Regions from separate parts of the Homo sapiens genome. Here region 2 is linked to region 1. Evidence: fine-mapped expression QTL. A gene starts in region 1. The other region holds a variant in brackets. All regions are shown on one strand. Distances are from middle to middle.

Evidence for each region. PIP is the estimated chance that this variant, and not a neighbour inherited with it, causes the effect.
Region 2: its variant is fine-mapped to the expression of ZNF789 in whole blood (TOPMed, PIP above 0.99).

What each region holds. Positions count from the first base shown.
Region 1 is chr7:99,464,672-99,480,342 of GRCh38, reverse strand. ZNF789 (zinc finger protein 789) reads right to left here and starts at 7,453. Exons shown (of 5, transcript NM_213603.3): 1 at 7,287-7,453; 2 at 3,863-3,940; 3 at 556-682. The coding sequence starts at 3,886. It overlaps TRW-CCA5-1 (tRNA-Trp (anticodon CCA) 5-1), which reads right to left and starts at 10,659; the gene lies at 10,588-10,659. ATP5MF-PTCD1 (ATP5MF-PTCD1 readthrough) reads left to right here and starts at 14,176. Exons shown (of 9, transcript NM_001198879.2): 1 at 14,176-14,214. The coding sequence starts at 14,202. ATP5MF (ATP synthase membrane subunit f) reads left to right here and starts at 14,176. Exons shown (of 4, transcript NM_004889.5): 1 at 14,176-14,232. The coding sequence starts at 14,202. RefSeq lists enhancers at 7,164-7,453, 7,744-7,833, 8,054-8,213, 13,988-14,107, 13,774-14,389 and 1 more.
Region 2 is chr7:99,617,069-99,628,804 of GRCh38, reverse strand. ZSCAN25 (zinc finger and SCAN domain containing 25) reads right to left here. Exons shown (of 8, transcript NM_145115.3): 2 at 10,154-10,280; 3 at 9,673-9,757; 4 at 8,812-9,244; 5 at 7,231-7,432; 6 at 6,165-6,256; 7 at 4,625-4,748. The coding sequence starts at 9,198. Among named protein-coding and RNA genes, the nearest start is that of ZSCAN25, 6.0 kb to the right of the region's middle. RefSeq lists an enhancer at 11,734-11,736. The variant C/T (reference allele first, on the strand shown) is at 5,975.

The DNA.
Region 1 (15,671 bases):
GTTGTTTTGTTTTGTTTTGAGACGGAGTCTCGCTCTGTCACCCAGGCTGGAATGCAGCGGCATGATCTCGGCTCAATGCAACCTCTGCCTCCCGGGTTCAAGCGATTCTCCTGCCTCAGCCTCCCAAGTAACTGGGACTACAAGCGTGCACCACCACACCAGGCTAATTTTCGCATCTTAAGTAGAGCTGGGTTTCACCATATTGGCCAGGCTGGTCTCAAACTACTGACCTCATGTGATCCACCCGCCTCGGAATCCCAAAGTGCTGGGATTACAGGTGTGAGCCACCGCACCTGGCCTACACTGTTATTTCTGAAGTTGGGTATACAGATATGCACACCAAGTTGGAAAAATAAAGACAATAAATGGTTTCCTATAGGATGAAGTCAGGTTTCACTGTGGTGATGTCTGGTCAGGGCTTGTAGCCACACGAGTTATAAAAAAACCTTTCGGTTTTCACCGCTTTTTCTGATTCTGGAATTGCAGATAAGGGACTAAGGGCTTGCACAGACACTCAGAACACAGACAAAGCCCAATCTTCAAGCCGTGTCCTACCCAGCAAGACCATGTTCCTGTAGTTCTCCAACATCACATCTCGGTAGAGGTCCTTCTGACCCCAGTTGAGGTGGCCCCACTCCTCTCTGGTGAAGTACATCGCCACATCCTCAAACGAGAGCAGCTCCTGGAAAAGTAGCTGATAAAGGTAACTGCAATTCTTAAAATAACTTACGCTCAATGATTATTCCACAGCTGAGGAAACCAAGGTTTGGGAGGTAGAGTGTGGGCCAAGGGCACCCAATTCATAAGGAATATATTCAGGGCTCCTTTCAGGCCTGATGGCCCTCAGGCCAGACATGTGCTGGCTTCCATACCACGGGGTCGACACAATTAATCTCTAAAGGGCCAGATGGTAAATATTTTAGGCTTTTCAGGCCCTCTGGTCTCTGTTCCAGTTCCTCAAATCTGCTGTTGATTAGAGGAACAGCAAATCAACAATCTGAGGAACAGCCTTTGTGTTGGAGCACAAAAGCAGCCGTGGACAAGTAAGCGAATGGGCACAGCTGTGTTTCAGGGAAACTTTACCAAGCGGTCCAGGGCAGTTTGCTGACCGCTGCTCTATAAAAATAACCTATTGCTTCTGCCCCAGGTTCCTTAGGAAAGAGATGAGGTCACTGGGGGGTTGGTTAATGTGCAGACTATTTACAAAGGGATGAATAGTCTCAATGAACATGAACAAGAAATGTGGAAGCTCGCAGGTCCTGGCCACCCTGGGGAACCAGGGCCTGCTAGGTCTGAAGGGGTAAGGTGGGGAGGGCTGCTGGAGCCCAGAAGGCTGCTGGAAGGGGAGCAAGACCAGCTGCGGCTGAACAGGATGCAGCCACACCCATCCCACAGCCCAGTGGGGAGGGAGCCGTGGGAAGAGAAACCCAACCTCAGTTTTCCCCAGGCCTCCGGCGCCCTGTCCCCTGTCCTCCAACCCTCTTCATCCCATTGCCACAAGCCAAGCAGATGCCAGAGACCAGGGGAGCCCGTTGCTGGAGAATATAAAAGGTACAGACCAAGGCGCAGACGCCTGGGGAGCATATCCAGAGTGGGCAACAGTGGACACAGCACAGTGAGCACAGGGGACATTACATCTGCAAGTGACTGCCCCCTCCAGTGGGCTGAGCACTGAAGCTGCCACACTCTCCCTCCCACACCACTGCAGCCCTCTGGGCAAAGGGGCCCAGCGGCTGTCTACACACTCCTTGCTCTCACAAGACACTGCATGGGTTCAGAGGGGATGTGTGCAGGGAAAGGGCAAACGTTCGCTGTCCTATAAGTGGTCAGTAACAGGAAATGCCCACCCCCATCCTGAGACCATCCTGAGAAGCTTCACGTAGCTCCCCTCTGCAGGCAGGCACCAGAACCTCCCAAATTATACGGACTTTCTTTCCTGCCTATCAAACCTGAGTTCCACTGCTACGGTTGCAGGCCCTTTCTCACCATTATCCAGAGTGTCACTCTTTTACCAGAGCTGCGCTGCCATGTCCTCAATCTGACCTACTCAGCCATCTGCATTCCCGCACCTGCACAAGGTTAACAAGCATGGGAATAAAATGGCTTCATCTCCCAGAGTCATTGTGGCATGGTAACTCCTCTCCTAACATCCACAATAGGTTCTTGGAAACTGATTTTTAGCAAAAGTATGTACAGCAGCAGGTCCTTGAATAACTTTGTTTCACTGTAACACTGATGGAAAAAAAACGGTTTTGATATACATAGTTTCCCTTAAAGTTGCAGTTTCCAAGAACCCATCAACAGCTAGGACTTGTACATTGACAGATGGGCACCAAATGTTGCTTAAAAGTTCCATTTTTTGTTTGTTTGGGTTTTTGTTTTCGTTTTTGTTTTTTGAGACAGTTTCGCTCTTGTTGCCCAGGCTAGAGTGCAATGGCGCGATCTCGGCTCACTGCAACCTCCACCTCCTCGGTTCAAGCAATTCTCCTGCCTCAGCTTCCCAAGTAGATGGGATTATAGGCATGCGCCACTATACCCAGCTAATTTTTGTATTTTTAGTAGAGATGGAGTTTCACTATATGTTGGCCAGGCTGGTCTCAAACTCCTGACCTCAGGCAATCCACCCCCCTCAGCCTCCCAAAGTGCTGGGATTCCAGGCATGAGCCACTGGTCCTCTCCTTTCTTTCAAACTCAGTCTCTTCTAGGCTGGGCGCGGTGGCTCACACCTGGATTCCCAGCACTTTGGGAGGCTGAGGCTGGTGGATGGCTCAAGCCAAGAGTTCAAGAACAACCTGGGCAACATGGTGTAACCCTGTCTCTACAAAAAATACAAAAGTAACCAGGCGTGGTGGCATGTACCTGTGGTCCCAACTACTTGGGAGGCTGAGGTGGGAGGATCACCTGAGCCTGGGAAGGTCAAGGCTGCCATGAGCCATGATCATGCCACTGCATTCCAGCCTGGGCAACAGTGTGAGACTCCGTCTAAAAAAAGACAAAACACAGGCTGGGCACAGTGGCTCACGCCTGTAATGCCAGTACTCTGGGAGGCTGAGGTGGGTGGATCACGAGGTCAAGAGATGGAGACCATTCTGGCCAACATGGTGAAACCCCGTCTCTACTAAAAGTACAAAAATTAGCTGGGCGTGGTGGCACTCGCCTGTAGTCCCAGCTACTTGGGAGGCTGAGGCAGGATAATCACTTGAACCCGGGAGGCAGAGGATGCAGTGAGCTGAGATCGCGCCACTACACTCCAGCCTGGCAACAGAGTGAGACTCCGTCAAAAAAAAAAAAAGACAAAACAACTCAGTCTCTTCTAATCACCCTCCATAATGCTACAAATTCAATAACTGACCTTCCATTATACCCGTTCATAGGAACAGTTCAGAATTTATTATGAGAAGTTCCTTACACAACTATCTCTCTAATCAGGTTGTAATCTCCTACAGGTAAGAGTTGATCTCCCAGCACAGAAAACAGCACCTGGAGTGTACAGCAGTAGGTGCACAATAATGCTCACAGACAGAAACAATGGGCAACTACTACGGTAATAAGAGCAACAACTTAACACAGTGCTAAACGAGTAACCAGATACTGCACAAAGGACTTCACAGGGTGTTTTTCATTGAATCTTCACAACTCGCTGTGATAGGCACTCTCACTGACCCATTTTACAGAAAAGAAAACTGGAGCCAGAGTGTTTATGTAACTGAAGGAAGCCCATGTGACTCCAGAGGCTAAGCTCTCTACATTGCACTGTCTAAGAAGGAAAACTCCCCACATTGATCAAGAGGGCTCAGTCTGAGGAAGGAGCTGCTGGTGGCAGTGACTATGCTGATGAAGCAGAGGGGGAGGCACAGCTCACCTTCCCCCTGGCTGGTGGGAACATGGCTTCCACGGCCTGGTCTTTTGCAAGGGGTGGGATCCTGGACGTCTGGCTGAGCTGGAGAAGAAAAAAAGTCAGTAAGGCCAGCCCTAATTTGAAGCTCTCTTGGTTGGCAGATCTGGGACCCGGAATTCCAACGGGGCACACAGACAAAGCTTAATACAAAGTCCCTGTGTTTGGTGTTGGAACATGTGATGAAATGCATGAGCCGCTACAATAAGTCTAGTAATTTCAATTTCCCAAGCTCCATCCAAGAGAACCTGCAGCCCTGCCCTCCCCTTCTCCCTAGAACATGTCATACTCTGCACCTCATATACAAAGGGACAGCAGATAGACCACATATAAACATAGCACTCTGGCCAGGCACGGTGGCTCACGCCTATAATCCCAGCACTTTGGGAGGCTGAGGCGGGTGGATCACGAGGTCAGAAGATGGAGACCATCCTGGCCAACATGGTGAAAGCCCTTCTCTACTAAAATACAAAAAATTACCTGGGCGAGGTGGCAGGCACCTGTACTCCCAGCTACTTGGGAGGCTGAGGCAGGAGAATCGCTTGAACCTGGGAGGCGGAGGTTGCAGTGAACTGAGATTGTACCACTGCACTCCAGCCTGGTGACAGAGCAAGACTCCATCTCAAAAAAAAAAAAAAAAAGAAAGAAAAAATAGCACTCTGATCCACACCCTGCAGCAACCAGCTCTGGAAGCCAAACCATAGCCTCTGAGGCATGGGCCCCAAATCAGGACTTGATCAATAACAGCTTTATCCAAAATTTTGCTCCCCACTCCCTTTAATTTAGGACCAACAGGAGAAAGCCAAATGCTCCCCTCCCCTATCACACAGGATGTCCGAGTCTAGTTATCCTAGGGATTCCAGTTCACCAGCTTTTCTTTCTCTAAATCTACTTACGTATTTCCAACCCTGCTCCTACAGCCAGCTCCACCTGCTGACAAGCCCCCTCTGAAAGTGTTCTAAAGGGGTCACTCAACCCTCACCTCTAGCCTGGTGATTTGCTAGCAGGATTCAGCAACAGTAACAATTACAGACTTGATTTTTTTTTTTTTTTAAACAGAGTTTCACTCTTGTTGTGCAGGCTGGAGTACAATGGTGTGATCTCTGCTCACTGCAACCTCCGCCTCCTGGGTTCAAGCGATTCTCCTGCCTCAGCCTCCGGAAGTAGCTGGGATTACAGGCACCCGCCGCCATGCCCAGCTACTTTTTTGTATTTTTAGTTGAGATGGGGTTTCACCATGTTGGTCAGGCTGGTCTTGAACTCCTGATCTCAGGTGATCCACCCACCTCAGCCTCCCAAAGTGCTGGGATTACAGGCGTGAGCCACTGCGCCCAGCCTACAGACTTGCTTTCTAACTCAGGATGAATTTTAATGAAATTCACTTTCATTTTAATGGATGCCCCTCAAACACAGTTCACCTTCCCTGAAAACAGTTTAGAAGACCCTTTGCCTTTCTTTTTTTTTTTGAGGAGTCTCCCTCTATCACCCAGGCTGGAGTGCAGTGGTGTAATCATGGCTCACTGTAGCTTCCAACTCCTGGGCTTAAGCAATGCTCCTGCCTCAGTCTCCTAAGCAGATGGGACTGCAAGAGTGCACCACCACGCCCAGTTGTTTGTAGTTCTTTTGTAGGTGGGGCCTTGCTATGTTGCCCAGGGTGGACCCTCTGCCTTTTAAGCAAAGAGGTACACTCTAAAAACTATCCTGATCAATGGCTCCAAGGCTGGAGCAAAGGCCTCATCCCTTTCATTCTCTACACCAAACTTGTCCAAACCTCAGCCTGTGGACCGCATATGGCCCAGGACGACTTTGAATCCAACCCAACACAAATTCGTAAACTTTCTTTTTTTTTTTTTTGAGGTGGAGTCTCGCTCTGTCGCCCAGGCTGGAGTGCAGTGGCGCGATCTCGGCTCACTGCAAGCTCCGCCTCCCGGGTTCACGCCATTCTCCTGCCTCAGCTTCCCGAGTAGCTGGGACTACAGGCGCCCGCCACCACGCCCCGCTAATTTTTTGTATTTTTAGTAGAGACGGGGTTTCACCGTGTTAGCCAGGATGGTCTTGATCTCCTGACCTCGTGATCCTCCCGCCTTGGCCTCCCAAAGTGCTGGGATTACAGGCGTGAGCCACCGCGCCCGGCTCGTAAACTTTCTTAAAACCTTATGAAATTGTTTTGCGATTTTTTTTTAGCTCATGAGCTATTTTTAGTGTTTGTGTATTTTATGTGTAGTCCAAGACAATTCTTCTTCCAATGTGGCCCAGGGAAGCCAAGAGATTGGACACCCCTGCACTATATTTACTGAATGTGTTTGTGAAGGCTGTGCATCTGAATGTCAGACTTGCTAATGAAAAATTAAATGGAGTCCATGTTTTGGGTACGGCCCTAGGCCAACCACCCACAGCCATGTAAGGCATTTAAAATACATTGATTTCTCCCTTGAGTTCAGGAGTTGGAGACTGCAATGAGCTATGATGGCACCACTACACTCCACCCTGGGTGACAGAGCAAGACCCTGTCTCTCTTAAAAACAACAGGCCGGGCGTGGTGGCTCACACCTGTAAATCCCAGCACTTTGGGAGGCCGAGGCGGGCGGATCATGAGGTCAGGAGTTCAAGACCAGCCTGGCCAACATAGTGAAACCCAGTCTCCACTAAAAATACAAAAATTAGCCGGGCATGGTGGCGCGTGCCTGTAGTCCCCGCTACTCGAGAGGCTGAGGCAGGAGAATCGCTTGAACCCGGGAGTTGGAGGTTGCAGTGAGTCGAGATTGGCCCATTGTACTCCAAACTGGGCAACAGAGTAACACTTCGTCTCAAACACAACAGCAACAACAATTCCTTATTTCCCTGAAAAGTGTGCGCTGACCAGGAAAGAAGCTTTTTTCTCGTCCGCATGATAAACTGAACCAATCAGCTACAGATGCGAGGCTGATCCAGCTCGACTTACCCTAGAAGGAATGCAAGTTGATAATGGCCAATTACAATCAAGATCACTGCACTTCCTCATTTAGCTTTCCAAGCTGCCATTGGAACAATTTGCCAGCTGTTCCTCTGCATGCACAATAAACTCTTAAAACTTTAACTGGAGGGGACTGTTAACTTTTGACAAAATCCAAAATGCCGCTTCACAATCACGTGAACACCTTCCACTAACAACCACGGCTCATCTCCCACTCTAACAAAACCAAGTCCAGGCGTTCACCATCCATTCATTCTTCGGACTTTGCTCCTCTCGCTGCCGAAGACTTGACACCGCCAAAAATACTCAAAAGCTGGTGCCACAGGCCCCGAGAGCCGCCGCACAAACCCGGAGCGTCCCCTGCGAGCCGGGGGTGTGCGCAGTGGCCTACCCCCCGCACCCACGCCCCCCACAACACTCGTTTCCTTCTCCCCAAACCTGCTGACGGCTCCGAATCTCCGCCAAGCCGCCTCCACCAGGGGCTGGGCTCTCCTCTCGGGGTTCCCGGGCCTGACCCGAGGTCTGTCTGGTCCGCGCCCCTCGGCGAATCACCCCTTACCGGAGGAACAGACACAACCACTCTGGCAGCCTCAGAGCCTCTCGCTGGCTCCACCTGCGCGCGCCGAGCGAAGCGTCCCAGCCAGCGGCCCCTCTAGGACCGCGGAGGCTTCACGACTCTCTTGTCAGACAAAGAGAGTGGCGCCCGCGCGAGTGGGCCCGAACCAATCAACGGCCGCCCTCCCCGCCCAGGCCAATCAACGGCCGGAGACAGCACCGAGAGAGTCACGTGATGGACAGGGCCCCGCCCCTCCTGTTTAATCGTAACATAATTTAGAATTATTCTATGATTCAAGAGCGACACAATTCGTTTCTTTGGCTGTGTGTTTGTGGAGGGGAGTAAGGTTATCAGATAAAAGAAGAAAAATGGGCCAGGCGCGGTGGCTTACGCCTGTAATCCCAGCACTTTGGGAGGCAGAGGCCGGCGGATCAGGTCAAGAGATTTAGATCATCCTGGCCAACATGGTGAAACCCCTTCTCTACTAAAAATACAAAAAAATTGCCGGGCGCGGTGGCTCACGCCTGTAATCCCAGCACTCTGGGAGGCCGAGGCGGGTGGATCACCTGAGGTCGGGAGTTCGATACCAGCCTGACCAACAATGGAGAAACCCGTCTCTACTAAAAATACAAATAAAATTAGCCGGGCATGGTGGTGCCTGCCTGTAACCCCGGCTACTCGGGAGGCTGAGGCAGGAGAAGCGCTTGAACCCGGGAGGCGGAGGTTGCGGTGAGCCGAGATTGCGCCACCGCACTCCAGCCTGGGTGACAGAGCGAGACTCCGTCTCAAAAAAAAAAAAAAAAAAAAAAAAATTAGCTGGGCATGGTGGCGGCGTGCCTGTAGTGCCAGCTACTCGGGAGGCTGAGGCAGGAGAATCACTTGAACTCGGGAGGCGGAGCTTGCAGTGAGCCGAGATCCCACCACTGCACTCCAGACTGGCGACAGAGCGAGACTCTGTCTCAAAAAAAAAAAAAAGAATATTAGATCTTAATTAAAAGGATAATTGTGTGGCTTATGTAAATTACCCCCAAAATACAGTTTTAATGTGAGTAAGGGGTTAATTTTTTTTCTTTTTTTTTTGAGACAGTCTCGCTCTCGCCCAGGCTGGAGTGCAGTGGCGCGATCTCGGCTCACTGCAAGCTCCGCCTCCCGGGTTCACGCCATTCTCCTGCGTCAGCCTCCTGAGTAGCTGGGACTACAGGCGCCCGCTACCACTCCCGGCTAATTTTTTTTGTGTGTGTGTTTTTAGTAGAGACGGGGTTTCACCATTTTGGCCAGGCTGGTCTCGAACTCCTGACCTCAAGTGATCCGCCTGCCTTGGCCTCCCAAGTTTTGTTTGTTTTTTATTTCTTCTAAACAAAACAAAACAAACAGGATACACGTGCAGAACGTGCAGGTTTGTTACATGTGCCATGGTGGTTTGCTGCACCTATTGACCCATCCTCTAAGTTCCCTCCCCTTACCCCCGACTCCCCAAAAGGCCCAGGTGTGTGTTGTTCCCCTCTCTGTGTCCATGCGTTCTCAATATTCAATTCCCACTTATGAATGAGAACATGCTGTGTTTGGTTTTCTGTTCCTGTGTTAGTTTGCTGAGGCTGATGGCCACCAGCTTCATCCATGTCCCTGCAAAGGACAGGATCTCATTCCTTTTTGTGGCTGCTTAGTATTCCATGGTGTATTTGTACCACATTTTCTTTATCCAGTCTACCACTGATGGGCATTTGGGTTGGTTCCATGTCTTTGCTATTGTAAATAGTGTTGCAATAAACATATGTGTGTTGGCTGAGTGCAGTGGCTCACGCCTGCAATTCCAGCACTTTGGGAGGTCAAGGCAGGCAGATTACCTGAGATCAGGAGTTCGAGACCAGCCTGGCCAACATGGTGAAACCCCGTCACTACTAAAAATACAAAAATTAGCCGGGCTCGGTGGCAGGAGTATGTAATCCCAGCTACTCGGGAGGCTGAGGCAGGAGAATCGCTTGAACCCAGGAGGCGGAGGTGGCAGGGAGCCGAGATTGTGCCATTGTACTCCAGCCTGGGTGACAGAGTGAGACTCTGTCTCATAAATAAATAAATAAAATAAAATAAAAAATAAAAGAGATGGGGTCTTGCTATGTTGCCCAGGCTGGTCTCAAACTCCTGGGCTCAAACGATCCTCCCATCTCGACCTCCCAAAGTTCTGGGATTACAGGCATGAGCCATCGCACCTGGCTCCTGTTGGCTTTAACAGAAAACAGGAACACTCAGTACTCCAGGTTCAAGACATTTGAACATAGGGAAGGCAGTGAGGTCAGGCCTGGCCACCCCTAGGGAGAGGACAAGGAACTCAGTCCAGCAGGTCGTTCCAGGAATACGAATGTGGGGAGGGAGCCGGATGACACGTCAGGCCAGCGCAGTCCCATAGGAGCGGCTCGGGGAAGACAACTGACTTCCTCCTCATTTGTTTTGAATAACGCTTTGTGCTAGTGGTGCTGGAACTTCAAATGCTGGAGATCAGGCTGCACCACCAATGCTTCTCCAAGGATAGCAGCCCCCAGGGTGGGCAGGTAGTTTTTGGATTGGGAAGGCAACTATTTCCCGAGCTCTGAACCGTTTTATTTATTTTTTCATTTAGAGACAGTGTCTCACCTTGTCACCCAGGTTGGAGTGTAGTGGCACAATGATAGCTCACTGCAGCCTCGACCTGCGCTCAAGGGATCATCCCGCCTCAGCCTCCTAAGCAGCAGCTGGTACTACAGGTATGCACCACTACACCTGGCATTTTTGCTTTTGCTTTTATCGTTGTTTTTTGTTTGTTTGTTTGTTTATTTTTTTATTTTTATTTTTTTTTTGAGAGACGGTTTTGATACGTTGCCCAGGCTGGTCTTGAACTCCTGGGCTCAAGCAATCTGCCCGCCTCAGCCTCCCAAAGTGCTCCTGCACTGTTTTAAGGTCCTGTCTGAAGTCCTGTGAATGTACTGTCTGAGGCACAGTCCTGATAAATCCTGCTACAGATGTGAACAGCACGACCTAAGTATTGGTTCTGAATTTTTCCTCACACTTTAGCTAAGGTGCCGGTCCACTGCTGAAGTACCTACGCAAATAAATCTTTAGGGCTAAAGAACAGAAAATACAGTGTCCAAGGTTGAGAGTTACCGGCAAGCTATAACTCCTGTTGGCTAAAGAAAGGGATGATCACATGTTTGACCCCGACGTGATTTGAACACGCAACCTTCTGATCTGGAGTCAGACGCGCTGCCGTTGCGCCACGAGGTCTTGGAAACCTAACTTTTTTGTGCTTTAGATGGACCCTAAAGAGTTCTTTTTCCCTTTTGTAATTCAGAGGGAAGTGTAAAAGTAAACGAAACAGGATAGAAGCAGACGCCACCACGGGGTTCGGGAATAATCCTCTTGTCATTCGGGAAAATTCACCTGCCTCGGGCTGTGTAGTCTCCTAAGGAGACACGTTTGGGAAGCCACAGTGGAAAATGTTTCACGCAGCTTAGCAGAGAAGGCTGGGGCGGGGTTGTCAGGGATCCGGATTCTCTTCTCCCCAGCCCTCTGCTTGGGGAGCACTAAGAATTTGCACGAGGGCCAGATCAACGAAAGAGTACTATGTTCAAGCTGGGGGCGGTGGCTCACGCCTGTAATCCCAGCAGTTTGGGTGGCCGAGGCTAGGCGGATCACCTGAGGCCAGGAGTTCGATACCAGCCTGGCCAACATGGTGAATCCCCGTCTCTACTAAAAATATAAAAATTAGCCGGGCGTGGTGGCGGGTGCCAGTAATCCCAACTACTCGGGAGGCTGAGGCAGAATCGCTTCAACTCGGGAGGCGGAGGTACAGGGAGCCGAGATCGCGCCATTGCACTCCAGCCTGGGCGACAGAGCGGGACTCCGTCTCTTACCAAAAAAAAAAAAATTATCTTTGGAATAATCTGCTCCCTCCAACCCACCCCCACCTTCCCCGAAACAACCCCAGTTCATTAACTAAAACGTTGGCATTTATACATATACAAATCACAGCTCCTGCGCCCTCAGTCCTTCCATCCACCCCAGGGGATCGGGCATTGGCGTAGCTTCCCTCCGGCCTCTTCCCGGGGCCTCCCTGGATTCCAGTGTGCGGATCCTGGGCTCCGGCGGCTCTGCGTCCCCGCGAGTGTCCGGCCTGGGGAAGGGGCGGGGGCGCGGGTGCCACTGGCCACTCCTGCCTTTTGCTGCTCTCCTGCACGTCCCACGGAACAGCGGCCCCCTCAGCTTCCCCTGCCCCAGCCCTCAAGTCCATCAGCTCCCGGAGGCTGCCTCTGCCCGGACACAGTGCAGTCGGGTCTCTTCGGTCCCTCGTAGTCTTCCAGGTCCCATACTCGCACCCTGCAGGAGGATTCCCTGGGTGGACCAGGAAGGTCCCCAGGCCGATTCCTGCCCCACGGAGGACCTGACACCTGGGGTCCGGCAGACCCCATCCCTGATCCTTCCTGCGGGGCCCTCTGCCCCAGCCCTGGCATCTGCCCCAGCCCTGGGGAGTGGGAGTTACATAGGCCCTGGTGCAATGGGCAGGGTTTTTCCTGGGGGTTCAGTTGCTTAGGGACGCAGCCCAAGGCGGGTAATAAACTCCTAAGACTACATTATACCCGCATTATACCGTGGATGGTCAACACACACCGCAAGGAGCAAGTGAAATAAACTTTGAAGACAGAGAGTTCAAGGGTGCAAGGAACCGTTGAGAACACTCCTACCGCAGTACACTACTATATTTGCTGGGGTTGGTTGGTTTGTTTGGAGACAAGTTCTCACTCCATCACCCAGGCTGCAGTGCAGTGGCCCCATCTCTGCTCACTGCAACCTCCGCCTCCCAGGTTCAAGCAATTCTCCCGCCTCAGCCTCTGGAGTAGCTGGAATGACAGGCGCATATCACCACGCTTGGCTACTTTTTGTATTTTTAGCAGAGATGAGGTTTTGCCATGTTGAGGAGGCTGATCTCGAACTCCTGATCTCAGGTGATCCGCGCACCTTGGCCTCCCAAAGTGCTGGGATTACAGGCGTGAACCACCGCGACCAGCCTGGTTTTTTTTTGTTTGTTTGTTTTTTGTTTTTTTTGAGACAGAGTCTTGCTCTGCCGCCCAGGCTGGAGTGCAGTGGCTTGACCTCCGCTCGCTGCAACCTCCACTTCCCAGGTTCAAGTGATTCTCCTGCCTCAGCCTCCCAAGTAGCTGGAATTGCAGGCACCTGCCACCGCGCTCAGCTAATTTTTTTCGTATTTTCACCATGTTGGCCCGGCTGGTTTTGAACACCTGACCTCAAGTGATCCGCCCACCTCTGCCTCCCAAAGTGCTAGGATTACAGGCGTGAACCACCGCACCTGGCCTGTTTGTTTTGTTTTGTTTTTTTAACCATTTTTAATTCCCACTGGCGATGCTGGCCGTGCTTTCACACACCTATAATTGTATATGCGATTTTCACTGCCTGGGGAGAAGGGAAGCAGACATGGAGGAGCCCCACAATGCCACCTCTGAAACAAGAAATGTAGCAGAATGAACTGAACGAGGGTGGCATTTATTTGGCAAGTTATGACTACAAGACCTGCTCTCGAGGTTGTTTTAAAAATCGGAGGCCCGGCGCGGTGGCTCACGCCTGTAATCCTAGAACTTTGGGAGGCCGAAGCGGGTGGATCACGAGGTCAGGAGATTGAGACCATCCTGGCTAACATGTTGAAACCCCGTCTCTACTAAAAATACAAAAAAATACAAAAAATTAGCCAGGCGTGGTGGTGGGCGCCTGTAGTCCCAGCTACTCGGGAGGCTGAGGCAGGAGAATGGAGTGAACCCCGGAGGTGGAGCTGGCAGTGAGCCGAGATCGCGCCACTGCACTCTAGCCTGGGTGACAGAGCGAGACTCTGTCTCTAAATAAATAAATAAATTAATTAAAATAATCAAAATTGAAGTAGCCCGGGCAGTGTGGTTCATGCCGGCAGTTCCAGTATTTTGGGAGGCCGAGGTAGGAGGAACGCTCGAGGCCAAGAGTTTAAGAGCAGTCTAGGCAACATAGGGAGACGCCTTCTCTACAAAATATAATTAGCTGGGCGTGGTGGCGTGCACCTGTAGTCCCAGCTACTTCGGAGGTGGAGGAAGAACGCTTGAGGCCAGGAGTTCAAGACCAGCCTGAGCAAAATAGAGAGCCTCTACCCCCACTCCTCACCACACTGTTTCCACCAAAAAAAAAAAAAAAAAAAAAAAAAAAAAAAAAAAGCTGGAAGTGGTGATGTGAGCCTGTAGTCCTAGCTACTTGGGAGGCTGAGATGGGTGGATCGCTTGACTCCGGGAGTTCAAGGCTGCAGTCAGCCGTGATCAAGCCACTGTCTGAAAAGTAAATGCTCGTCTGAAAAGTAAAAAATAAAAATAAAAATAGACTGGGCGCGGTGGCTCACGCCGGTAACCCCAGAACTTTGGGAGGCCGAGGCGGGGGGATCACGTGAGGAAAGGAGTTCAAGGCCAGCCTGGCCAACATGGTGAAACCCTGTCTCTACTAAAAATACAAAAATTAGCTTGCTGTGCTGGTGCACGCTTGTAGTCCCAGCGCGGCCTCTTCCCACCTTTTAAGGTAGAGAGCCCAGGCTGAGGCGCCCCTCTCTCTAACTGCAGGACCCTCGGATTTTTGCTGTCCAGGCACCTCGCCCTTCGCTTCATGGCCTTCTAGTAGTTCCAGGGTGTTCGCAGTTGTGACCTGCTTCCCGTGAGCCTCTGCTCTACGCCCCTGGATGGGGCGTGCATTCCCTACCCAGCAGCCCTCGCGCGGTCCGGCACAGCGGACACCAGGACTCCAAAATGGCGTCAGTTGGTGAGTGTCCGGCCCCAGGTAAGGCTGTTTGGACTCCGTGGTGGAAGCAGGAGCCAGGGTCCAGGGTCCAGAGCCACACTGGGAGAGAAGGAAGCTGCGGAGCTGCCTGCCCTTTGCTCAGGCACTTCGCCACGACCTCACTTGAGGCGCGCCAGACCCCGCTCCGCCTGCCCAGGCGCGCCTTCCTGCTGCCCAGGGCCTGCGCCAACCGGGTTAGGCGTGGAGGGTGAAGGCATCTGGGGCACGCGCTTCTGGGCCTGGGAATGCGCCGCCTTGGGCCACTGTTCCTCTTTCCGCTAAGAAATAGCCGCTTCCCTCTCCCGCTGCGACCCAGTTGCTTTGCACTTGAATGTTAGGCGCAGCTTTTGCCCTTTTTTCCCAAGGCTTAAGCTCAGATGAAGCTCCAGGAGGAGCTCAGGACTAGGACTGTACCTGATACCATGTAAGGTTCGATGCATATATGTTGAATCAGAGAGGCGAGGTGACCTGTTCAAGGTCACAACTCGTGCGAGGGCTGAGCTGGTATTCAAACCTGAGGATTCGTGGTAAATGAACTTTATTCTCTAGGACGGCCTTATGACTAGCAGGCTTTTCCGAGACACCCATGTGTAAATCGCTACATTCATCCCGCTGTGCACACTGATGATTTTTGTTTGTTTGTTTTTGAATAGTTAGCCCTAGATGCTCCATAGTAGCCTTGTCAGAGAGTCCTTGTTGGGAAAGTCGATTCCATTTTACAGATGAGGGAAATAACTGTTCGGGATGTGGTGTGGCCTCTCTGAGGTCACACAGCCTGATAGTGGCAGAGTTTTGATTAACACATGTGTGTCTTAGCTCAGTTTCTGGTTTTTTTTTATCATTTTTTTTTTGAGATGGCGTTTCGCTCTTGTCGCCCAGGGTGGAGTGCAATGGTGTGATCTCGGCTCACTGTAACCTTTGCCTCCTGGGTTCAAGCGATTCTCCAGCCTCAGCCTCCGAGTAGCTGGGATTACAGGCGCAGGCCACCATGCCCAGCTAATTTTTGTATTTTTAGTAGAGACGGGCTTTCACCACGTTGGCCAGGCTAGTCTTGAACCCCTGACCTCAGGTGATCCATGTACCTCGGCCTCCCAAAGTGCTGGGACTACAGGTGTGAGCCACTGCGTTTCTGTATTCTTTTTTTTTGACATGGAGTCTCACGCTGTCGCCCAGGCTAGAGTGCAGTAGCTGATCTCGTCTCTGCAACCTCTGCCTCCCAGGTTCAAATGATTCTGCTGCCTCAGCCTCCCAAGTATCTGGGATTACAGGCACACACCAGTACCTACGCCCGGCTAATTTTTTTTTGTATTTTTAGTAGAGATGGGTTTCGCCACGTTGACCAGGCTGGTCTCAAACTCTTGACCTCAAGTGAGTCACCTGCTTCGACCTCCCAAAGTGTTGAGATTACCAGCGTGAGCCACTGCGCCTGACCTCTGGTT
Region 2 (11,736 bases), 150 kb before region 1:
ATTCATCCAGATGTCCTGCGCCTTCCCCAAACGATTCTACACCTGCTGTAGCACAGGGCAGCACACAGCTCTCCAGACCTTCCAGGTGCCTGCTCAGTCCCCTGTCCTGCCCACATGCTCCCTCTGCCTAACCAGGTTCATTCATCTGGGTCTCCTAGGAGCCTGGCAGGGGACTGACTCAGGGAAGATGCTTGCTAACTGCTGGCTGAATGAATGAAGCAGGCTTCACTGAGGCTCCTGCAGGAGAACGCCCCTAGGTAGCATATTTATCAGGACTGAGACCATGACGCTGCTGAAATGCTCAGCTTCACCCTTCCTTCATCCTCACTCTGATCCTTCTTATATTCTCTCTAAATTAACGGAACAGGTGTTTATGGAAGAGTAACAGAAAGGGGAGGAGAAAAAAAGAAAAGAAAAGGTATTGGGGAACAAAGAGGCAAAGAGAAAAAAAGAAAAGGAGAAATAAGTGGTGCTTAAAGCGGAAGAGTCCTTTTAGGCAAGATGACTAGAAGACAAAAAAAACCTGACAGTATATGCCTCCTGGTTTGATAAAATATGAAATACATACTTATCAGCTTGGATTTTGTTTTGTAAACTTTTCATGAAAATAAAAGTGTACAAGCCATTTATGTTTTGTACACGCAAAGATTTTATTTTTATTTTTTTGGATCCAGCGCTGGCTAAAAAATGTCACGTTACCCTTTTTTTCCTTTTTGTGGAGATGGGGGCCTCACTATGTTGCCCAGGCTGGTCTCGAATTCCTGGGCTCAAGTGACCCTCCTGCCTCTGCCTCACTGAGTGCTGGGATTACAGGTGTGCGTCACCACACACTATGCAAAGAATTTTCTTAACGAACCCAACCACGTAAACAGCATTCAGTTCAACAAACAGAACATAACCAGTCCCTAGAAGCCCCTTTTACATCTCCTCCATCACTATACCCTGCATATATATACTATACATATACAGTATATACATATACAGCATATACATGTATACAGTATATACAATATACATATACAGCATATACGAGATATACGTATACAGCATATACGATATACGTATACAGCATATACGAGATATACGTATACAGCATATACGAGATATACGTATACAGCATATACATGATATACGTATATAGTATACATATATACTATACCAACGGGAACACATTGTCTGGACTTTTTTGCCTGTTCTTGAACTTCAGGTAATTGTCTCACACATTGTTTCTGGCTTCTTCTACTCAATATCATGTTTGTGACGTTCACCTATATCATGGTGTGAAGCTGTAGTTTATTCTTTTTCATTGGTATACAGTATTCCACTGAGTATATGTATGTGTGTGTGTGTATGTATATATAGATAGATATACAGATACAGATAGACTGCAACCTACTTATTAATTTGACTGTTGTTCATTTGGGTAGTTTTCAGTTTTGAGGTGTTATGAATAGTAAGATTAAAACTAAATGCAATGCACAAACCACAACTAGATCTTGGGGAAAGCTGACTATGCACTAGATGTTACATATATCGAATTTATGTTTATTTTCTTAGATGAAATTATGCTACTGGGCTATGTTGGGAATGTCATTGTTAGACAAATGCTGAAGTATTTACAAATGAAAGATTGAGATGCCTCCAACTTCCATATCATTCCAAAACAAAACACACATTATACAGCTAAATATGGCAAATGTTAACAATTGGTGAATGTAGATAAAGACCTAAGTGTGTTCCCTGTACTAGTCTTAGCTTTTCTGTATGTTTGAAAATTTGTATAATAAGAGTTCAAAATATAAAGCTGGGGGAAAAATAAATACAATGATACCTAAGTATAAACAGAGACACTGGGAGAAAGACACAGTAGTGGAAGAGAAGGGACCTAGCAGTGAGAAACCCGTTTTGAGTGCTGCACTGGCTGCTCAATTGCTGTGTGATCATGGGAAAATCAATTAACCTCTCTGAGCCTTACATTCACCACCTTCAAAATGGATTGTACACTCATGAAGTTTACTGCACACATGGAGCAGGAATGCAATGGTTCATGATATTATTTTAACTCCCAGACCATGTACCTGACTTGCAGCTACTTCCAGGGACCATCCACTTAGATCTCAAAGTCAACAAATGGAACTTTCCATTCTTCCTCCCTCTTAGGAAAATGCTTCCCTCTCTTTCTGACAGTAGTAACATAATTTTTCCAGGCCCTTAGCCAGGATCCTAAGACGTAGACTCCTCTCTGACTCTTCTCTTTCCTCCCCTCTGGCCAATCTGTGGCCCATCCTTGGAAGCATATTTCAGTAAACCCCCTTCTACATGACCACTGGCCTGGTTCCTGCTCTTACCCCAGTGCCTACACTATTTCAACCCTCCAGACTGGCCGTACCCTGCCGTCAATCCAATTTTCCTCAAGTAAAACCTCCATCACATTACTCTGCGCAGAAAAAATTTTTAAACAAGGACCCAGAGTCCTCACGGACTCCTCAGCGGCCTCACTCTACTCACTCCTGCCTCCTCCTTACTCCTCTGAGCACTCATCTTTCACTCCAGGACCCTCACCATCCTGGGAACCAGCCTGCAGAGTCCTGCATTCAGGTTTCTGCACCTGCTACTTTTTGCCTCTGTGATTCCAAATCCTGTTGTGAGTTCTTGCTCCAGTCCTTGTGGACATTACTGCAATTACAACCCAGACAACAAGGTCTGCACCTCACCGTCTGCTAATGAGAACAGACGAACAACTGGAAGTGATCTGGGCAGCCACCTAGCTCAACCCTGCCCTGTGCATTCAGTCTCTTTACAGGTGAAGCAGCTCAGGCCCAGCCCCAAGCAGCTGTCAGTACAAGCACCAGGACAACCCGAGTGTGAATCCCAGGAAGACCTGAAAGCTGGGACAGCAAGTGAATGGTACACTTGGGAAACAGGCCTTCGTGTCACCTGGCGGCAGAAATGTTCAGGTATGGGCTTGAGTTGCTCTGAGTTCTGAGACACTGAGCTGGTGAGGGGACAAGGACAGAACCAGTCTCCAGAACAGTCAGAAATGGCCAGGAGAGCATGAAAATCTTCTGAGAATGGGGGCGAGGGGCTCCTCACCCCACACAGCAGCATCACTGGGAGGGGAATATCCCTGAGGGGGACCCTGGCACCAGGACACTGGCACCTTTGTCTGGGGCTCATCACTCGAGCCCCTGCTTTGTTCTGTCATCCTCTGCCGTTACAGCAATCACACATCTCCACATAAAGTATGCTGACATCTTTCTGCCACTTGCATCACTGCCACACTGTGTCAACCGTGCCCTGGACCCAGGTCTCCCAGGAGACCAGTGCCCCTTACCGTATCCCACTATTACATGCACATGGCCTCTTCCCCTGAACTCTAAGACCCCACAGGCAAGCGCCTTTATTTTTAACTCTTCATAGTGACCAGAACAGCAATGGCCACAGAGCCAAGTCCACCTCTGTGGTGAATAAATGAGTGAAGGCTGAGGGCTCCTACAAGAATCCCTTAGTAATACTTACAGCACTAACTAAACAATCTAACACTACCATGGTCACCACACATTTAGATATGTCACCTCCCTTCATCCTCATGGCACCATGAGGACAGGTTCCATGAACAGCCCCATTCCACAACAGAGGAAACTGAGACCTGGAAAGCTCAAGGGAGATGCTCAAGGTCAGGGTCAGCAAGTGGAGGGGCAGGATGGATTCTCTTACGTCCTGAAGGAAGCACAGGGATAATCTTGCTCTTCCTTCAAGGCATTTCAGGATAAGGAAAGGCTAGGTGGGGTCGGTACAGATGGGTGGTCAGTGTACAACTCACAAAGAAGTTATGAAACAAAAAAGAAGAAAATCAAAGAACAAGGACAGGCCGCTCCAGCCACAGTGTTTCCTCTCCCCGCCGGCATCCTGATTCCACGCATGCAGACTCTCCATACTGTCCCTTGCCCTGGCAGCCCCAAAGCCCCGCAGTGCGCTCTGCTGGCAGCCCCTGTGGGCTCTCTCTCGCTGCTCCTCCTCCCATGAGCTGCTGTCACACACAATGGCCGCATCCCCCCAGGCTCTGAGCCCAGGTCAAACCCAGCCACCACCTGAGTCCCAGCGCAGCTCTGCTTCCTCTGTGACTCGGGCCACTCCAACCTCTCCCATCGCGAAGCCCCCTCGTGCCCTCCTACGTGCACACCGTGAGCTCCAACGCTTTCGTGCACGTTAGTCCTGCCCACTTCCTGCCGCAAGAGAAAACCACTAACACAGGGCCCACATGCAGGGAGCACTCAATAAATATCTGAACAAGCTCAGATGCCCCATCTTTTGCTGTTCGTATCTTGTTCTCAAGCCCTCAGTGTCTTTAATCATGGACACAATGTAGGTGTTTGGGGGTCCTCATGACCGACCTGTCTCCATACAGCCAGAATAATGGCCTCATGTTTTCCTGCTCCATCATTTGGCTCCTCTATTGACACAGGAAAGCAGCTCCTCGTGCCCCATGGTCCGTGCTGGACCCATTTACCCGCCTGCCATGAAGTCCCCTTCCTTTGCCAGGAGCGCCAGAGCTACGGCAGGACCCCTGACCTGAGCTTTCAGAACTCCCCAGTTCCTCACCTGTGGGTGGAGACAGTCTTACCTGGAGAGACCCTGCAGTCCTGCGGTTCCACATACTCCCCAAAGCAGTCTATCTGGGCTGGGGTCACATGCCTCCACTCCTCCTCAGGGAAGGCCAGGGCCATATCTTTAAATGGCCCCAACCCCTGCAACAATAGGAGATTGCTATGAATAAAGAAAGAATCCTAGGCCAGAGACAGTGGCTCATGTCTGTAATCCAACTTCCTCCCAACCAGCTTCCTCCCAACAGTTGAATGGGAGTAATCCACTTGTTTGAGCCACTGCAGTTGTGAGCCTCTGTGGCTGGGGCTCAGCTTGCCCCTAACAACTAAGTCACCTCATTTCCACTCTGCAGCAGCCTCCCACTCACACCTCATGCTTGACAGAGCCTGGCAGCCGCTATTTACCTTCTCATCAAGAACAAAGTTCACATTCGGCCAAGCCCTGTCTTAAGAACAAGGCTGTGATAAAATAAATGCATCCTCAATTTCTCACTCACTGCACCACGAAGAACTATTATGGTACAAGGGAGGATCCAACCAAATTAAAAAGCACTGATGTCATTCCTCATCCCCTCCAAAGTACATCCTTGGAGAACAGGAAAAGGGAAATGATGCTGGCATCCAGCCTTGCCCAAATACGGCTTGAGCAGGACCAGACTTGATCCCCTTCTTTTTTCTGCCAAACACCTTTTCTTCTTCAAAGAACTCTTTTAGACTCGCCTCCTTGAGGAAGGTGCCCCACTGGAAAGCCCCCACCTCCCTGCTACTAGTGCTCAGCACCCTGTGGAAAAGAGAGCACCCCATCTATGCTTCAGTTACCTCATTTGTGGCAGATGAGTAATGTTAACGAGGTCCAACTCCTAGTGTGGCCTGTATGGCCAAAGAGACCACCCTGCTCAATGCTTCTGAAAGCCCCAACCCTGAGTCAGCCACATTCCTGCTGAGGTTAGGGGACAGGAAAGTTTCCAAAACAGAAAAATCAGCAGCAGAAGTACCCATAAACGGCACCCACAAAGGGTTATCTCGGGGCCAATCAGCACAGCCTAGATAGCCCTAGGGGGTTTCTATCTGTAACAGTTGTAAGAGTCCATCTGTGGCTGGGCGCGGTGGCTCATGCCTGTAATCCCAGCACTTTGGGAGGCCGAAGTGGGTGGATCACAAGATCAGGAGATCGAGACCATCCTGGCTAACACGGTGAAACCCCGTCTCTACTAAAAATACAAAAAATTAGCCAGGCGAGGTGGCAGGTGCCTGTAGTCCCAGCTGCTTGGGAGGCTGAGGCAGGAGAATGATGTGAACCCAGGAGGCGGAGCCTGCAGTGAGCCAAGACCGTGCCACTGCACTCCAGCCTGGGCGACAGACATAAGGTT[C/T]GATGTAAATTAACAACTGCGGCTGATGGTTCAGTGGAGGAAACCACACCATCAGGTCCACCGGGACTAGGAAGGGAGAATGACTCAACTTGGGGCGGGAAGGGAACACTGTTGTGCAGAGAAACCTTGGGGAAGGTGAACCTCAATCAAAGCAACGGTCATGATTTCTGCAAAGGGAGTCAGAGCTCACCTGCGATCCAGCAGTAAAGAACCCAGCTGCCATCTCTTGGTCTCTGGGATTCACTGCGGGGAGGCCAGGACCCGCCTGCAGAACAGGTAGTGCTGAGCAGGGACAAAAAGCATGAGAAAGATCAGAAGGATCAGTGATGTTATGCTGTTAGCTCGTTCAAATGTGTCCCCTACCAGATGCTCACAACCTCAGGAACCAGAAGACTCCAGACAGAATCCCTTTTCACTCTGGTACCACACTTTCCCATGCACAGGGGCCTGGGTGTCCCTTGCCCTATTCTCAGCTGGGGCCTGGGTGTCTCCTGTTCTCAGCTGGCAAGATTGTCCCGGCCCTGTCCGTCCAGGGCTACCCATGCTACCCAGTCACACTCTGGGAATAACCTCCTATGAGATTCAATAACAAAATAAAGCTACGTGGGCTGGGCGCGGTGGCTCATGCCTGTAATCCCAGCACTTTGGGAGGCTGAGGTGGACAGATCACGAGGTCAGGAGATCGAGACCATCCTGGCTAACATGGTGAAACCCCGTCTCCACTAAAAATACAAAAAAATTAACAGGGCATGGTGGCACATGCCTGTAGGCCCAGCTACTTGGGAGGCTGAAGCAGGAGAATTGCTTCAACCCAGGAGGCAAAGGTTGCAGTGAGCTGAGATCGCGCCACTGCACTCCAACCTGGGTGACAGAGTGAGACCCCATCTCAAAAAAGAAAGAAAGAAAGAAAGAAAGCTACATATTACTTTGGGGGATATGGTTTATCTGCCTACTGAAAAAGTATTCCTGCAAGTCAGCTGAATATTTCTTGGTAGTTTCTAGAAGGGATCTGAGGGAAAGAAAAGAGAAATAATAAGAAAGCATGATCCCAGATATCCCCTCCAGACACCAGAGGGTAAAGGGAGAAGAAACAATTTCACTTCATCTATTTCCTAAGGTGGAGGAAGTAGCCAAGAAAATTCACAATTACACCTCGTGGGTAACTTAGTTGCTCCATTGCTGGGTTTCTGAAGAGAGTTGGCTGCACAGCACTGTTTCCTATGACCTGACATCCCCACTATCTGCGTCTTACTCACCTTGCTCCTGGAAGGCCCGTGTCTCATCTCCAGGGTCCTGACTGAGCTGCTCCTCGGTACCTGGGTCTGGACCTTGAACTCCTTCCCCAGGGGGCATCCCCCATTCAGGCTTGACCTCCACTGGCCCCAGCTGGATGCCTGGCTCCCAAGCGCCTCTGCAAAGTGCTGTTTCCTCCTGCTCTCCCTGCCTGTGGCATGGAACCTAAGAACAGTTCCCAACACCGATTAGAATGAGGCCTGGGCAAGGCTGTTATGAAGGGAGTTGAACTAAAATCTAAAAAGAGAACCAAGAAAAGAACCATTCCAGCTTCAGGGGAGAGGAAGGAAAAATCAGCTGAGCTCTTCCCCAGGACATTAGTGAGGAAGTGAAAAGGAAGCTAAACTCATGCATCAGGCCCTGAGCAACTTTTATCTGTCCACGCCATTTGACAAGGGTCCCCTCTACCTGCCATCACCAAGCCCAAATATTATCCTGCTGAGGATTTTAACACAATATACTCACTACTAGAAAAAAAAATTCCTAATTGAAAAAGCTGAAAATAAAAAATGCAAAGCCTAGACCCTGCAGTGAACAGGCCAGTGAGAAATAGTTGCTTTAAAGAGAGCCAGGAAGCCTGGGCAACATGGCGAGACTCCATCTCTACAAAAAATAAAAAAATTAGCCAGGCATGCATGCCTGTGGTCTCAGCTACTCAGGAGGCTGAGGTGGGAGGATCAACTGAGCCAGGAGCTCAAGGCTGCAGTAAGCTAGGATTGTGCCACTGCACTCCAGCCTAGGCTGTTGACTGACCCTGTCTCAAAAATAATAAATTAAAAAGAGCAAGAAAAATCAGGAGGACTCTCTCACTGAGAAGTACTCACAAAAACAAGGCATTTCTGGGTCCACTTTTAAGCTCCTGAGTTGAGTAGGAAAAAATTCTCTTAGGATTCTGAAGACAGGAAGTCAGGGTGACGAGAGTGTGCACGGGAGGCTGAACTACAGAAGGACGGGGGCTTGTGAGCAAGACGGTGTCATCAGTCCTGCTCTCCTTTCCCAGTCATCCATCAGGGGGCTGTACCACAAAGTGACCGAAATATGGCTGGAACCTCAAGGAAGCACGTGCGGTGCCAAATCACTTGGTGTCATTAGAGCAGCACCAGAGAATTGTTACAGGAGCCCTATGAGCCACAGAGAAACAGTACTGCCATGGACAACCCTTTTCCGGAAAAATATTCCCCAGGTGGGATTCTCTGCCTTCCCAGAGGCATCTCTGTCCAAAGCAGGGTCAGGTCTATGAGGGACCCCAAAAACAATCACAACTGCCTTCTTTTTGCCTGATGCCCACAAGGGAAATATGGCCAGGCCTCTGCCCTCATGACCAAACAGAGGCTTCAGGCCCTTCTGCATGGCAGCATCTCCCCTGGGAATGGCCTTTCTTGCTGAAAACGCCACTGCTCTCCAAAAAGAACCTCAGGGAGTCTGAGGGCAGAGGAGGGCGGCTCCACACCTCGTCCACTCCTACTGCTTCCTCAAATCTTTGGATTCTTTAACATTCCCTGCCCACGCCAAGGGCGCCAGACCTGGATCCCCTCCTCACCCACCGCCTTGGCCTCCAGTGCTCTTTCTGTCAGGTCCTCCACCATGGCGGCCAGGGCCTTGCCACTCTCTGGGCCATGCTCCCGGATCCAGGCGTAGAACTCGCGGGGCAGGATAGTGAGGAACTGCTCCAGCACCAGCAGCTCCAGGATCTGCTCCTTGGTGTGCAACTCGGGCCTCAGCCACCGACGACAGAGCTCCTGGAGCTCCCTAAGAGCTTCCTGGGGTCCAGCTGCCTCCTGGTAGCGGAACTGCCGAAACCTCAGCCGAAAAGTCTCTGGACTAGGGTCCTCCCTTCCTCTGCCCCATGGCAACTCTTTCTCCAGTTTCACCACAGGAATACCCAACTGCTGCTGAGGAGCTTCCGCCATCTCTGGATGCTCTTTAAGCATCTTCAGACTCCCTCCGAGGAGACTGAGAATGACTGCATCAATGACCCTTTTGAGAACAAGAGACACATGAAAGGTCAGCCCATCCCAGTTCTGTCTCTACATCAAGGAATATTCCACTGGAGAACACAGTAATTACCTTTTACAAGGCATTTTCAAAAGACTGAACACAGATCCCAAAAGTCAGGTCAATTCAACATAGTAATCATTTGCTAAGCAACTATTAGGTACAGAGACTAAACAGAAAATGTCTAAGATTTTGCTTTTATACCCACAAATAACTTAGGATCTCACTGGAGAATAACACTACAATCAGAGAATAATATATAATGGGTTATAACTGGGTGAGTCACCAGGGCCTACTCTTCCAATACTAAAGGAAACATACATGCAACACACAAACACACACATATACACACACAAGAGGCAGGCAGAAACAACAAATAAAATAGAAAACAAGACACACTGGGAGCTTACCCTCCTGAAACTCATATGCTGGTACAGCAGACAGAAAAAGTCAAATGGAAGCAACTCTTTTAAAAACTGCAAGTGGAGACAAGTTCTAGAAAGAAAATAAGTAGGGTGCTCTGTTAACAGGGGGCAACTGACTTGAAGAAGGCTTTTCTAAAGACATGATACCAGGCTGACTCAAGGATGAGAATGAGTCAGTCATTCTAAGAGCATTCCAGGCAAAAGCCCTGAGGCTAAGAAATTACTCTGGGTGTCCAAGAACAAGCCATATCCCAGTGTGGCTTCAGCAGTGACGAGCAGAGCTGCACCAGAAGAGGTGGCAGAGGCAGACAGAAACCAGATCACCCAGAGCCTGCGCCACAGAAAGAATTATGAACTTTATTCTTATTTCTTACTTTAGCGAGGAACTACATGTTTTATAAAAGTCATTCTGCCTGTGTGTTGACAGGGAATAGGCTAGAGGTGGCAAGAGGGAAATGGCACTTACAGTGATTCAAGCAGATGATAAGGGCTTAGATCAGGGTGGTGGCAAAGAGTCAGACAAAATCAAGACGTATTTTGGAGATTAAAACCAACAAACTTGCTGATGGCTTAGATGTGATGGTGCGCTCAACCTGAAAAAGACAATGGAGCAACATATATACCATTATGACAAATGACCTAAAGATTTCTAACTTGTACAGGCTTTACTCTTTAGAAAGCATGTGAACACATATTTCATCTAATACTTAAAACACTTCTGTAGGATGAGTGCTACTCCTCCTACTTCTCAGAAGAAAAAAAAGAGACTAGATGATAACTGCCTCCCAAAATACATGGTACAGATTGAAAAAAAAATGTGAAGTCAAAAAGAGAGAAAACTAATCTAAGTCCAAGTACTCAAGGAAAAGAAGAGGCTTGAAGTAGACTGGAGAATGAGTCCTATTTACCTCCAAGTGGATTATGCGGAAGACCTAGACTGGGAAGACAGACTTGGAAGTCCAAAGCACCAGGGGAAGGAGATCCTGCTTGTCAGAAAACGGAAAGATCACCTGACTGGAGCAGAGAATGGGCAGCTGGCAGGAGGCACACCCCAAAGCTTCTGCTAAATATTCTATTGTGAGTTTGTGTATTTATCTACCCCCACTTAAACCAAGTTTATATTTTCAGTCTATTCATTGACTCTGCAACATTGAGATTTCTCTTTCATTCCTTTCTAGCTATTGCATTGGTTCACTCCACTAGTGCATTTAATGCACTACAGTGCAAATGTTTACCCATGTGTCTCCCTCTAACAGATTCCCTGGAGGCAAGAAAGATCCTCATTCATCTTTTATCTCTGCCATTTGACAAATAGAAATTGCCCCATTGCTATTCTTTATCTCCCCCCACCCATTGTGACTCTTTTGTTTTGTTTCTGAGACAGGATCTCAGGGTTTTATCACCCCAGCTGGAGACCAGTGGTGCGATCACTGCAGCCTTTGCCTCCTAGGATCAAGCGATCCTCCCACCTCAGCCTCCCGAGTAGCTGGGACTACTGGCGAGTGCCACCATGACCAGCTAATTATTTATTTTTGTAGAGACAGGGTCTCCCCATGTTGCCCAGGCTGGAGTGCAGCGGCATGAATGTAAGTCAGTGCAACCTTGAACTCCTGGGCTCAGGCGATCCTCCTGCCTCAGCCTCCCGAGTAGCTGGGACCTCAGGCGCGTGCCACCACGCCCGGCTACTTTTCAATTTTTGTAGAGACAGGGTCTCGCTATGTTGACCAGGCTGGCTCATCACTATTCTTTAAATAAGTGTCCTATGTGATTACTTTCACTTTGCACAGAGTTCTGCTTTGGTTCAAGATCTCTTCGGGTTCGTGGCCAGCCCTGCACTAAGCCAAGCCTGGCAGAGCGGGATCAGCCTCGCTCCTACCTGAGCCTACAGCGCGGCGGCCCCTCAGCGTCCAGACCCGCAGGGCCTCGGGGCCGCTGAAGGCAGCTCCTGAGAGACTTGCCGCCCTCAGCCGGGGCTGAGCGGAGGGAGACGGGCTCTACTGCAACCCCGCTGCCGCCGAGCCCCGTAGCGGCACCAAAACCCGTCCCCGC